3 linked regions of the Homo sapiens genome follow. The protein of the gene in region 3 interacts with the protein of the main gene of each other region in a pairwise test. Each region holds a gene or a part of one and is shown on either strand. Other genes may lie near its edges. The genes, in order: BANP, MORN4 and RHOQ.

What was found.
Region 1: the proteins of RHOQ (region 3) and BANP interact in binary tests that used the Homo sapiens proteins (3 or more experiments, as listed by UniProt).
Region 2: the proteins of RHOQ (region 3) and MORN4 interact in binary tests that used the Homo sapiens proteins (3 or more experiments, as listed by UniProt).

The regions. Positions count from the first base shown.
Region 1 is NC_000016.10:88,034,814-88,038,462, reverse strand, and holds part of BANP (protein BANP), read right to left. Parts: intron 3,141-3,649; coding exon 3,069-3,140; intron 491-3,068; coding exon 452-490; intron 1-451. UniProt on the Homo sapiens protein: Controls V(D)J recombination during T-cell development by repressing T-cell receptor (TCR) beta enhancer function. Binds to scaffold/matrix attachment region beta (S/MARbeta), an ATC-rich DNA sequence located upstream of the TCR beta enhancer.
Region 2 is NC_000010.11:97,623,488-97,627,136, reverse strand, and holds part of MORN4 (MORN repeat-containing protein 4), read left to right. Parts: intron 1-3,649. UniProt on the Homo sapiens protein: Plays a role in promoting axonal degeneration following neuronal injury by toxic insult or trauma.
Region 3 is NC_000002.12:46,548,864-46,552,512, forward strand, and holds part of RHOQ (rho-related GTP-binding protein RhoQ), read left to right. Parts: intron 1-3,649. UniProt on the Homo sapiens protein: Plasma membrane-associated small GTPase which cycles between an active GTP-bound and an inactive GDP-bound state. In active state binds to a variety of effector proteins to regulate cellular responses. Involved in epithelial cell polarization processes.

The sequences.
Region 1 (3,649 bases), on a different chromosome or scaffold from region 3:
GGCACGTTTCCGCCATAGCGCAAAAGCTGCTGAAATCCTACGGAGCAGCAAATGTAACCCCCAAGCCCTGCCCTCCCCCCTTCCAGGCCTGTGCATTGTCATGGTGAGGAAAGCCAGTCCTGCTCTGGGGCTCACACTGAGAGGCCTTTGCACCCTCGCTCCCTCCCGCGAGAGCCCCCATTCCTTGGCAGCACCATGGCCTGTATGTGAGAGGGGGACTGTGGCACTCACCTGACCATCCGCCCCCTTCCCATGAGAGCCCCACCCCTCGGCAGCGCAATGCCCACAATGACCGTCCCACCCCTCCCGTGAGAGCCCCACCCCTCGGCAGCGCAATGCCCACATGTACATGGGGACCAGGGCACTCACCTGACCGTCCCACCCCCTCCCCTGAGAACCCCATCCCTCGGCAGCGCAACGCCCGCATGTGCATGGGGACTGGGACACTCACCTGACCGTCCTGCCCCACGTGATGGATCTGGAGGTTGCCCTACAAAGAACGAGAGGAGGAGACGGTCATGAGTAGAAACACACCAAGACACCCTCAGACACGGCAAACACGCCAAGACACATCACAGGCCACTTGAGAATAACAAGAAAACCCCAGTTCTGCAAAAATTCAACCTCCAGTAGCAACAAAAGCCCCAAAACAAAATATTGACATTTCTAGGTACTATTTATTATTTTAAAGATGAACAAACAACTCAAAAAGCATTGTACTCATTCCCCTACCCTGACCCCAAATGAAAATGTCATTTTTACTTCATTTTTTATTTTGAAAGAATCTGACTCACAAAAAGTACAGAAAGTAGCAGAGAGACGTCCTATGTGTGTGTCGCCCAGCTTCCCCGAAGGGGGACGCCTTGCTGAGCTGTGCGGCATCACCACGCCAGGTCACGGGCTGCACGCAAGGAACCAACTCACTCAACCACAGAGCTACTAAGAGCTCTCCAGTTAGAAATTCATTTTCATTTGTTGTAAAAAGGAACTGTGTTGTCTGTCAGACCCTGCTAAATGTTTATTTGCAGATATCCTGTTTTAACAAAATAATTTTAAATGAACACGGTATGAATGTATGGTGACGAGACTGCATACTGTCACTCATCACAAAGCCATCGTTAGTATTATTAGCAATTTCTAACTTACTGCATTCAATTCCTATTGAAAACGAAAGACAATCACCTATACAAGATGGATTCAGTTTTGAAAACTGATGGATAAAACTAATAATAAAAAATTGAAATTCGAGTAGTCAAGATTTTTTTAGCATAAACTATAAAAAGCAAATGTGTGTTGTTTTTTTTCTTTTGCTGCTGTTTCAATTTTCCTGCATTTTCAATGACTCTAAGGAAATTAAGCATTCTGACGAACTTCATAGGCTTCCAGGTATTCAAGAACTCTGGCTGAGCTCTTTGGCAGTGAGCTTAGCCTCCCAGCCCACATCTGTCTGTGCCTTGAGAAGCAAACCTTCCCCTGCCCCTCAAAGGCAGCTCCTGCACTGGAAGGTGCTGCTGGGATCCTGCACCTCGCAGCCACTCAGGCCCCCAACTCCTGCACCTGACCTCGCTGAGCTGACAGGCGCATCTCCTGACATCTCCAAGGAGATGGTCCCTGACCCACCCACAGACACAGAACAGGGAAGGCCCTGCTCCTTCCTGGACACTCTGGCCTCCTGGGACCGTCCCCTACCTGCTCCCCGCCCTGCTGCTTCCTTCCATCCATCCATCTGACCACGTTTCTTAGTGACCTGGTCATGTCGCTGTGTGGATGAGCCCACTCATTCCCAGTCGCTCACGGCCCCCACATGAATTCGTTCCTCCCCTTTCACCTCATCCTCATTCCGCCCTCAGAACCCTTACGCATGTGCTCCCCTCTCAGGATAACCCACCGGGAACTGCTGGTGTCCAAATTAAAGCCACTGCCAGCAGACACGCCCGAGTCCCTGGTGCTCCACGTGCCACGGCGTGCATGTGTCCACAGTCTTGCTCACGGGCACTTGGGCAGGAGGCTCTGCGCCCGCTGTGAGTCCCCGATGGCAGGGCTTCTCTCTCCTCTGCTCCCCCACAGCACCTGCACCCAGCATGAGCTCCCAGGAGGCCTCGCACGCCAACATCTCCATGAGTCCCCTTGACCTCAGCACCCGGGCTTCCTAGTCTCTGCTGCTGGTGTGTGTGGGGAAGCCTGAGATCTTTGCAGCGACACACTACTATGCACCAAACACAAAGCTGGTGCCATTGTCACGACCTAGAAACAGCCATGTTCCTCATCCCCCAGAGCGCACCACGGTCACTGAGTACAACACGTGTGTGCTGCTTAGTGCCCTGTGCCTGCTGCTGCCTGTGCTGCAGGAAACAGCCCAGAGTCGAAGGACGGTCACCCGGGAGACAGTCCTGCTCTGGCATGCAAACATGGAGCATCGCAACAGGCTGGCCTCGGCTTTCCAAGAACTCAGACTGTCACTGCCGCCTTCACATTCCAGACCCCAACAGCAGCTGAGCCCGCACTTCTGAGTGCGTGGCCGGGTAGAGCTCCAGAAACTGAGACAATCACAGACCCAGCAGGTGCGTCAAGGGCTATGAGCAGCTCTCAGGACTGGCAGCATCACCTTGTGGGATTCCCCACCATCCCATGAAATCGGCACTAATCCCGTAGAGGCCACTAGGAAGCTGGGGCCACATGGCAGGTGAGGGGGTATGTCAGGTCACCTACGCAGGGGCAGACCCCATCTCGGCCACACTGGGGGCCTCCCCTGGCAGGAAGGGCAGGGCCAGACAGGGAGAGAAGGGTACTCAGAGGGCACTTCCAGCCAGCAGTAGAAACATCTACCCAGGAGATCTTTACCAAGACAGACCAGAAGCTGTGGAGACCAACGGACAGGAGGGGGAGGCAGAGAGGCCACAGAGACTGCAGGCCCGCTATGTGCACCCTGGAAGCGGAGTCCTGCAGCCCTTGCCCACGTTCCCTGTCCTGGGGGCTCCCTGCTGCCCTCGCACTGTGACACCGATGAAGGTCGGGAGCATGTGGGCACGGTGCCTGCAGGGACAGTGCTGCAGCGAGAGCTGACTCACCTCGCTGTCCTGCGTGATCTGGACTTGCTCCCCCTGCGGCACCTGGGCGATGTGGAGGTGTCCCTGTGGGATCCGCAGCAAGAAAAGACACCAAGAAGCATCAGAAGAAAATCAAAAGCAAAGGAAACAAGAAACATCTTCCGGAATGTTTGTTCTTGATTATCTGTTTACAATTCAAAAAGATAACTAAATCCTGAATAGTGCAATATAGTCTGTGGTCACTTCTTTAAATTAAGCTTTTGGTTCACAGTAGTCCCCCTCATCCATGAGGGTTTCAAGAAGCACCCCCTACCCCCACCACGTGGACGCCAGAAACTGTGGATGGTGCTGAACCCCATATATGCTATGCTTTTTCCCGCCCATATGTGCCACACAGCTTGGACATGCTGGACAAAGGAACGACTCACGTCCCGGGCTGGACAGAGCAGGACGACCAGACTTCATCATGCTACTACTCAGAAGAGTATGTAATCTGAAACTTACAAATTGTTTATTTCTGGAGTTTCTCATCTAATATTTTCAGATCACAGTTGACTATGGGTAATTAAAGCCTGGGAAAGTGGAAGCATGGGTAAGGGGGG
Region 2 (3,649 bases), on a different chromosome or scaffold from region 3:
TGTTCAGGTCCCTCTGCTGAAGCTACTCAGCAAAGTCACCAGCACCAGTCTCCATTAAACAAACAAACAAACAAAAATCAGGCCGGGCACAGTGACTCATGCCTGTAATCCCAGCACTTTGGGAGGCCAAGGCGGGAGGATCACCTGAGGTCAGGAGTTCAAGACCAGCCTGGCCAACATGGTAAAACCCTGTCTCTACTGAAAATACAAAATTAGCTGGGCGTGGTGGCAGGGGCCTGTAATCCCAGCTACTTGGGAGGCTGGGGCAAGAGAATCGCTTGAACCTGGGAGGCAGAGGTTACAGTGAGCTGAGACTGCACCATTGCACTCCAGCCTGGGCCACAGGAATGAAACTCTGTCTAAAAAAAAAAAAAAAAAAAAATCTGGGCACAGTGGCTCATGCCTGTAATCCCAGCACTTTGGAAGGCTGAGATGGGTGGCTCACCTGAGGTCAGGAGTTCGAGACCAGCCTGACCAACATGGTGAAGCCCTGTCTCTACTAAAAATACAAAAATTAGCCAGCCATGGTGACGGTCACCTGAAATCCCAGCTATTCGAGAGGCTGAGGCAGGAGAATTACTTGAACTCGGGAGGTGGAGGTTGCAGTGAGCCGACATTGCACCACTGCACTCCAGTCTGGGCCACAGAGCAAGACTCCGTTTCAAGAAAAAAAAAAAAAGAGAGAGAACAAGCATCAGAACATATTATGATTATGATTATGATTATGATTATGATTATGATTATTATTATTATTATTTTTGAGTCAGAGTCTCGCTCTGTCACCCAGGCTGGAGACCAGTGGCATGATCTTGGCTCACTGCAACCTCCACCTCCCAGATTCAAGTGATTCTCCTGTCTCAGCCTCTCAAGTAGCTGGGACTACAGGCATGTGCCACCACGCCTGGCTAATTTTTGTGTTTTTAGTAAAGACAGGGCTTCACCATGTTGGCCAGGCTGGTCTCGAACTCCTGACCTCAGGTGATCCATCTTAGCCTCCCAAAGTGCTGGGATTACAGGCGTGAGCCACTGTGCCCAGCCCGCTTGTTCTCTTTAAAAAAAAAAAAAAAAAAGGCATGAGGCTGGGTGTGGTGGCTCATGCTTATAATCCTAGCACTTTCGGAGGCCAAGGCCAGAGATTGCTTGAGGCTAGGAGTTTGAGATTAGCCTGGGCAACATAGTGGGACACGGTCTCTACAAAAAAGTTAGTTGGGCATGGTGGTGTGTGCCTATAGTCCTAGCTACTTGGGAGGCTGGGGCAGAAGGGTTGCTTGAGCCCACAAGTTCAGGGTTGCAGTGAGTTATGATCAAGCGATTGCACACCAGCATGGGCAACAGAGCGACACACTGTCTCCTTAAAAAACAAAAAATCGTTATGACATGAGGCCAAAATAAAAATATCCTGTAGGATGTTGATAAAGAGTGGATGGGTGGCAACTATAGTTTGTTTTTCCTCTACTTAGTATTCAGCTCTTTAGTCAAAATTGCTGAGATTTTCTTTTTCAAAGTGTTGTTTGAATTACATTGGTAGCAGTTTTTACTGAGGAAAGACCTAGAGAAGTTTTCATTACAGTAAGTATATGTGTGAGTTTAAGTGTAAAACTTTGAAAGAGGAAAGAAACTAACATTTAGTGGACAGGCCCTAGCAGTGTTCTAGGTACTTACGTGTGTGTCATTTTCTTTCTTTTATTTTTCTTTTCTGTCACCCACTGACTCTCAGATATTTAATTTAATCCACCTGCCAACTATGTGAAATACATATCTTATCTCCACTTTACAGATGAGGAGACTGAGATTTAGAGATACTTAAATACCTTGCCCATAATTATACAGTGAACTCATATTTGAACTCAAGTCCTCCTGTGCTCAGAGTCTACAACACCACCATATTATCCTGGGAGGCCAGATAGGATAGTATGGTATAAGTTAGCAAGTTACTGTAAGAACTTGTGCCAGCAAGGCCAGCTGTCAGAGCTCTGATTCTAACTTTCACGTGTTAGTTTCCACATGTATGACCTTAGTTAATTTACTTATCCTCTCTGCACCTTAGTTTCCTCATCCCTAAAGTGGAAATAATAATAATACCCACCCCAAAAAGTTGTTGTGAGATGAAATTAGATAATATATTTTAAAAACACTGATGCTCATGCCGTGTGCGGTGACTCACGCCTGTATTCTTAGCACTTTGGGAGGCCGCGGCAGGTGGATCACCTGAGGTCAGGATCACCTGAGGTCACCTGACCAACATGGTGAAACCCCATCTCTACTGAAAATACAAAATTAGCCAGGCGTGGTGGCGCATGCCTGTAATCCCAGCTACTTGGGAGGCTGAGGCGGAGGTTGGAGTGAGCAAAGATCGCGCCATTGCACTCCAGCCTGGGGAAGAATAACAGTGAAACTCCGTCTCAAAAACAAAACAAAACAAAAAACACTGATGCTCACACCAGTAATCCCAGCTACTTGGGAAGCTGATGAGGAAGAATCACTTGAGGCCAGGAGTTCGGGACCAGTCTAGGCACCATAGCGATACCCATCTCAACAAAAAATTTGAAAAGTAGCTGGGTGTGTTGGCACACACCTCTAGTCCCAGCTACTGGAGAGGATGAAGCGGGAGGATCACTTTAGCCCAGAAGTTTGAGACTGCAGTGAGCTCTAATCACAATCACACTACTGCATTCCAGGCTGGGTAACTGAGTGAGACCCCATCTCTTAAAACAAAACAAATAAACAACACTGATGGAACACAGTAAGAGGTCAGTAAATGTTAGCTTCTGTTATAAAGGTATTTCAGACAGCTTCTCTGGGGTTAGTGCAATTGATTATTAGAGAGGGTTGTGCCACCTGAATTGAAATATAAATAATCTAGCACTGTCCACCATGACAATGTGGAGAAAGCAAATTTAACATATGGGTTGTTTTAGTTGAACATTTAAAGCATCACTTTTGCATAAAATATACCAGACCCCTTTTGTGCTATGAAACTATGGAACCCACTCTTTGGAACTCCATCTTGACTGGATGAGGTTTTGGCTTCCCTGGGACTTGAAGGAAAAGGAAGCTAGCTGTTGGCGCCAGGCCCCCGAGATTTAAGAATCCCATCTTGCGGCCAGGCACGGTGGCTCATGCCTGTAATCCCAGCACTTTGGGAGGCCAAGGCGGGCGGATCACGAGGTCAGGAGATTGAGACCATCCTGGCTAACACGGTGAAACTCCATCTCTACTAAAAAATACAAAAAGTTAGTGGGGCGTCGTGGTGGGCACCTGTAGTCCCAGCTACTCGGGAGGCTGAGGCAGGAGAATGGCATGAACCCGGGAGGCAGAGCTTGCAGTCAGCCGAGATCATGCCACTGCACTCCAGCCTGGGCAACAGAGTGAGACTCTGTCTCAAAAAAAGAAAAAAAAAAAAAAAGAATCCCGTCTTGTTTTGAGCTGGGAGCAGTGGCATGCACCTGTAGTTCCAGCTACTCAGAAGTCTAAGAGGGGATTGGAGGATCTCTTGAACCTAGGAGTTCAAGTCCAGCCTGGGTAACATAATGAGACCCTGTCTCTAAAAGAAAAAAGAATTCTTTCCTGTTTCTCCACCAGGTCTGGCCCCAGTACTCTGAGGAGAATGTGTCCTTGTCCTGTTGGAACTCAGTCAGATGCCTGAGGG
Region 3 (3,649 bases):
GGTGGATAGCCTTTGTTGACTCCAAAGCCTTTGCTGTGTTCGCTCCAAAGTCTGAATGCCCTGTGTTCCCCTCCTTGGGACTCTGATGTGGGTTTGGGTTATGCCAGCTTAGACTGTGGGCTGGCAGGCAGGGACTTTAGGGTGGGGGCAGTCCCCACCAGCTCTCGTTGGTCTACAATTATGCCTCATAATCGGGCACATAATCTGTGCCCCATCCCCATCCTGGACCTTTGATCTGTTTGGCTTCTCCACTTCCATCATGATTCTCCTGAGGTTTGGTGACATTCCCACGCTTTGAACGACAGCTTCCCCGCAGGTATCTCAAGCATGAGTGTTACAGGTGTGCTGAGATGCCAAGCTCTCATCTCTGAGGGGCCGGGGGAGTGACAGCCTAAGGGGGTTGAGCATGTATTGTCAGTTGCTGTGGGTGCTGTGATGTGAAAAAGGTGGGAAGCATTGCTTTAAGCCCCTCGGGGTCAGAGGCCCCATGGAGAATTGGGCTTTTGCGGTTTTGTTGTGCAGTTTGGGGTTTCAAGAGATTAGATCTAATGGTATGAAAACAAAGCCAACAAAGTAGCTCTCCACGGGGGTGTCCGTTTCCAGAAAGAGCACATGTGTTGGCAGCTGTGGGTGCTACAGAGGCCTCAGACACAACAGCAATGCTTCAGCAGGAGAGGGACGCAGTTACAAAGAAACAAGATGGAAGACCATGTGTGGCTCTTAAAAATTAAAATTCCTGATTCTCAGCTGTATTTCCTTTCTCTCTGACAGGCTTGGCTTTGCCCTAATTTGGCACACTTGGGTCAGAGAGCAGCTTTCCTTGCCCTCAGCAATTTGTCATTCCTCTTTTGGTTTCTGAGCACAGCTGCTTTGCATGTACGGAGGCTGGGCTGTCTGAGCTCTCAGGGGTCCCCCGGCTCCCTGGGTAGAACGCTCTCCTGCCCAGTGCCGGCCAGGACCTCCTGGATGCGTTCTTGCTCTCTTCAAGAACAGTGTCTTTCTCTACCATGTTGCAGTGCTCAGCCCAGTGCCTGCTACCTTGTAGGCATGCAACAAATACATCTTAAGGGGATTCATGGCCAGGCAGGGTGGCATGTTCTTGTCTGTAATCTCAGTACTTTGGGAGGCCAAGGCTGGAGGATCATTTGAGGTCAGGAGTTCAAGACGAGCCTGGACAACACAACAAGACCCCCAATTCTACTAAATTTTTTTTTTTAATTAGCCAGATGTGGTAATGCATGCCTCTGTAGTCCCAGCTACTCAGGAGGCTGAGGTGGGAGGATCACTTGAGTGCAGGAATTCAAAGCTGCAGTGAGCTATAATACAAGGCTTCATTGCACTCCAGCCTAGGCATTAGAGCGAGACCGTGTTTATTTAAAAAAAAAAAAAAAGAATTGATTCTCATTTGACTGTCAGCTTGTTTCTGCTAAAAGGTTAACCAAGGACTAAAGTCATAGCTGCTAAATAATAGCATCAGCACAACCCCTTTTCCAGGAAAGCTTCACTAATACAGTAGAAGTCTTTAAGGTTCAAAGGAGAAACAGGCACATAGGTATGGGGCAGGCCATCAGTTTTGTCTTTACACAGGCCCAGGGGCCTTAGTGATCACCAGTGGGTCTGTCTGTCCCCCAACACTCTGTCTCAGACTCCGGCCTTTGCATGTTTCCTGAGACCTCTTGCTCCCAGATCCCCTGAGGAGGAGACAGGTTGGCAGTGGAAAGAGTGTGGGTTTTGGAGCCTCCAGATGAACTTCGAATCCTAGTTCTACCTCTTTGTAGCTGTGAGACATCGGCCAGCCGGCTCACTTCTGTGAGCCTCTCTTCCTTCTGTGTGAAGTGTGGAGATAATTTATACCCTGCAGCATAGCTGTAAGGATTAGAAATGATGTATGTCGTTACCCTGTAGGGCTTGGTGCTGAGAGTGCGGGCCCAGGCTAGCTCTGGGGGCTTCACACTGGCTCAGTTCGGTTGGTGTTGATTCAATGCCTGGTGTGTGTTCCCACCTTCCACAGGAGAAGGTGGGGGATCGGGCCACAGAAAGGTCCACTACACAACTGGGCAAGTTCATCGTGTGAAATTGAGTGCTGCAGGGTCCCACACAGGAAGAGGTGACAGGGAGGAGCTTTTTGGAAGATCTAGGCTTGCAGGAAGAGATGGGGGCCAGTAGAGTACTGGTTGCCAGTGTGGACCCCCACACTGGACTCCCAGGGCCCAACTTCAGCTCTGCCACTTCCCAGCAAGGGGCTTAACCTTCGGAAACCTGTTTCCTTATCTGTCAGATGGAGATTATGATAGTACCTCCTTGTGGGGTTGTTAGATATGTTGGAGCTTCCCAGCTCCCAGATAAGGGATTTCCTCAGCCCTCAGGGCAGCTGGGTAGGGCCTGGGACAAGCCATGGCTCAGGTTGTCCTAGCTTGAGCAGTCTCACCTCAGGCATGCAGCAGTGGCTCCTCTACTCCACCCGATGTGTGCTGAACACATCATCTCATTTTCTCTGTGTGCCATGAGGTGAAGATTTGGGAAGCATTGACCTAAATGAGTTCCAGCAGGCAGAGGGGTGTGGAGAGCTCATATTCTGAGTGGGAAGAATAGTGTAGGGAGGAACGGCAGAGGGGGTGACCCCAAAGCGTCTTTTTATGGACCCCAGATCCCTGCTATCAGTGTCAACATGTGGAGCAGGGTTGATAACTAAATTATGGAGTTTTTCACCTGGTGACTGACAACTTGGTAATTAAAGAGATATTAATCTGGTGCTGTGTTGCTGGTTGATTTTAATAGAAAGAAAAGAATGTGGGGAAAGGGGTCTTTATTGCTGTCTCTGTTCCTTTTTGAGTGAATGGTGAGAGCACTGAAGCAGCCGCCTCTCCAGATCCCTAGATTTTCCTGCTCTACTCAGGCTCAGGGTAGACTGAGGGGCTTAAAAGTGGCAGGCTCATCATCAAATGACATTTTTACAGCACATAAAGCATGTCGCACCTGGTACCGCCTTGAGTTCCCTCACCTGCTCTGTGAGTAAAGGAAGCCAGTGGTGGCTGTCTCATTTTGCAGATCTGGGGAGGTTAAATGACTCGCTCCAGGCCACACGGTTGGTAAAAGGCAAAGCCGAGATCACCAGGCAGGCTGTCGGACTTTAAGCCCTGGGTTCTTGATGTTAAGTCACTCTCCCTAATCATCTGGCCCATGTTAAATGCCTCTTTTATCACATGCACTGTTGTTCAGCGTTTCATGTAAAAGGTACATTCCAAGCGTATCGCTTTTCTAGCTAGAAGAGATGGTGGAACATTGTGTATAGGTGGAACACGTAGGGACGGCTGCTAAAACGGCTCCTACAAAGACTTCTGCCCCACGTGACGTTACGGGTGTTTTGTCACTTTGTCCCTAAACCACCATGCTTCCTCAAAAAGGAGCAGGCCCGAGGTGGCGCTGATGGCCCCATTGCTCAAGTACGTGTGGAAGAAGCTCATGCCATTTGCCTAAAGCTGTGGCCCCTTCCCAGAAGAGAGGGACAGGGAAATGCTGTTTGGGGGGCTGCCAGGCGGGCCAGCTTTAGCCTGCAAATGACGGGTGTCGTTTGTGTCCCATGGGGGCTACCTCAGGCCTTTCCTTTCTCCCTTCAAGGATTTTCTTATTCAGGGGAAGCCTACCTCTG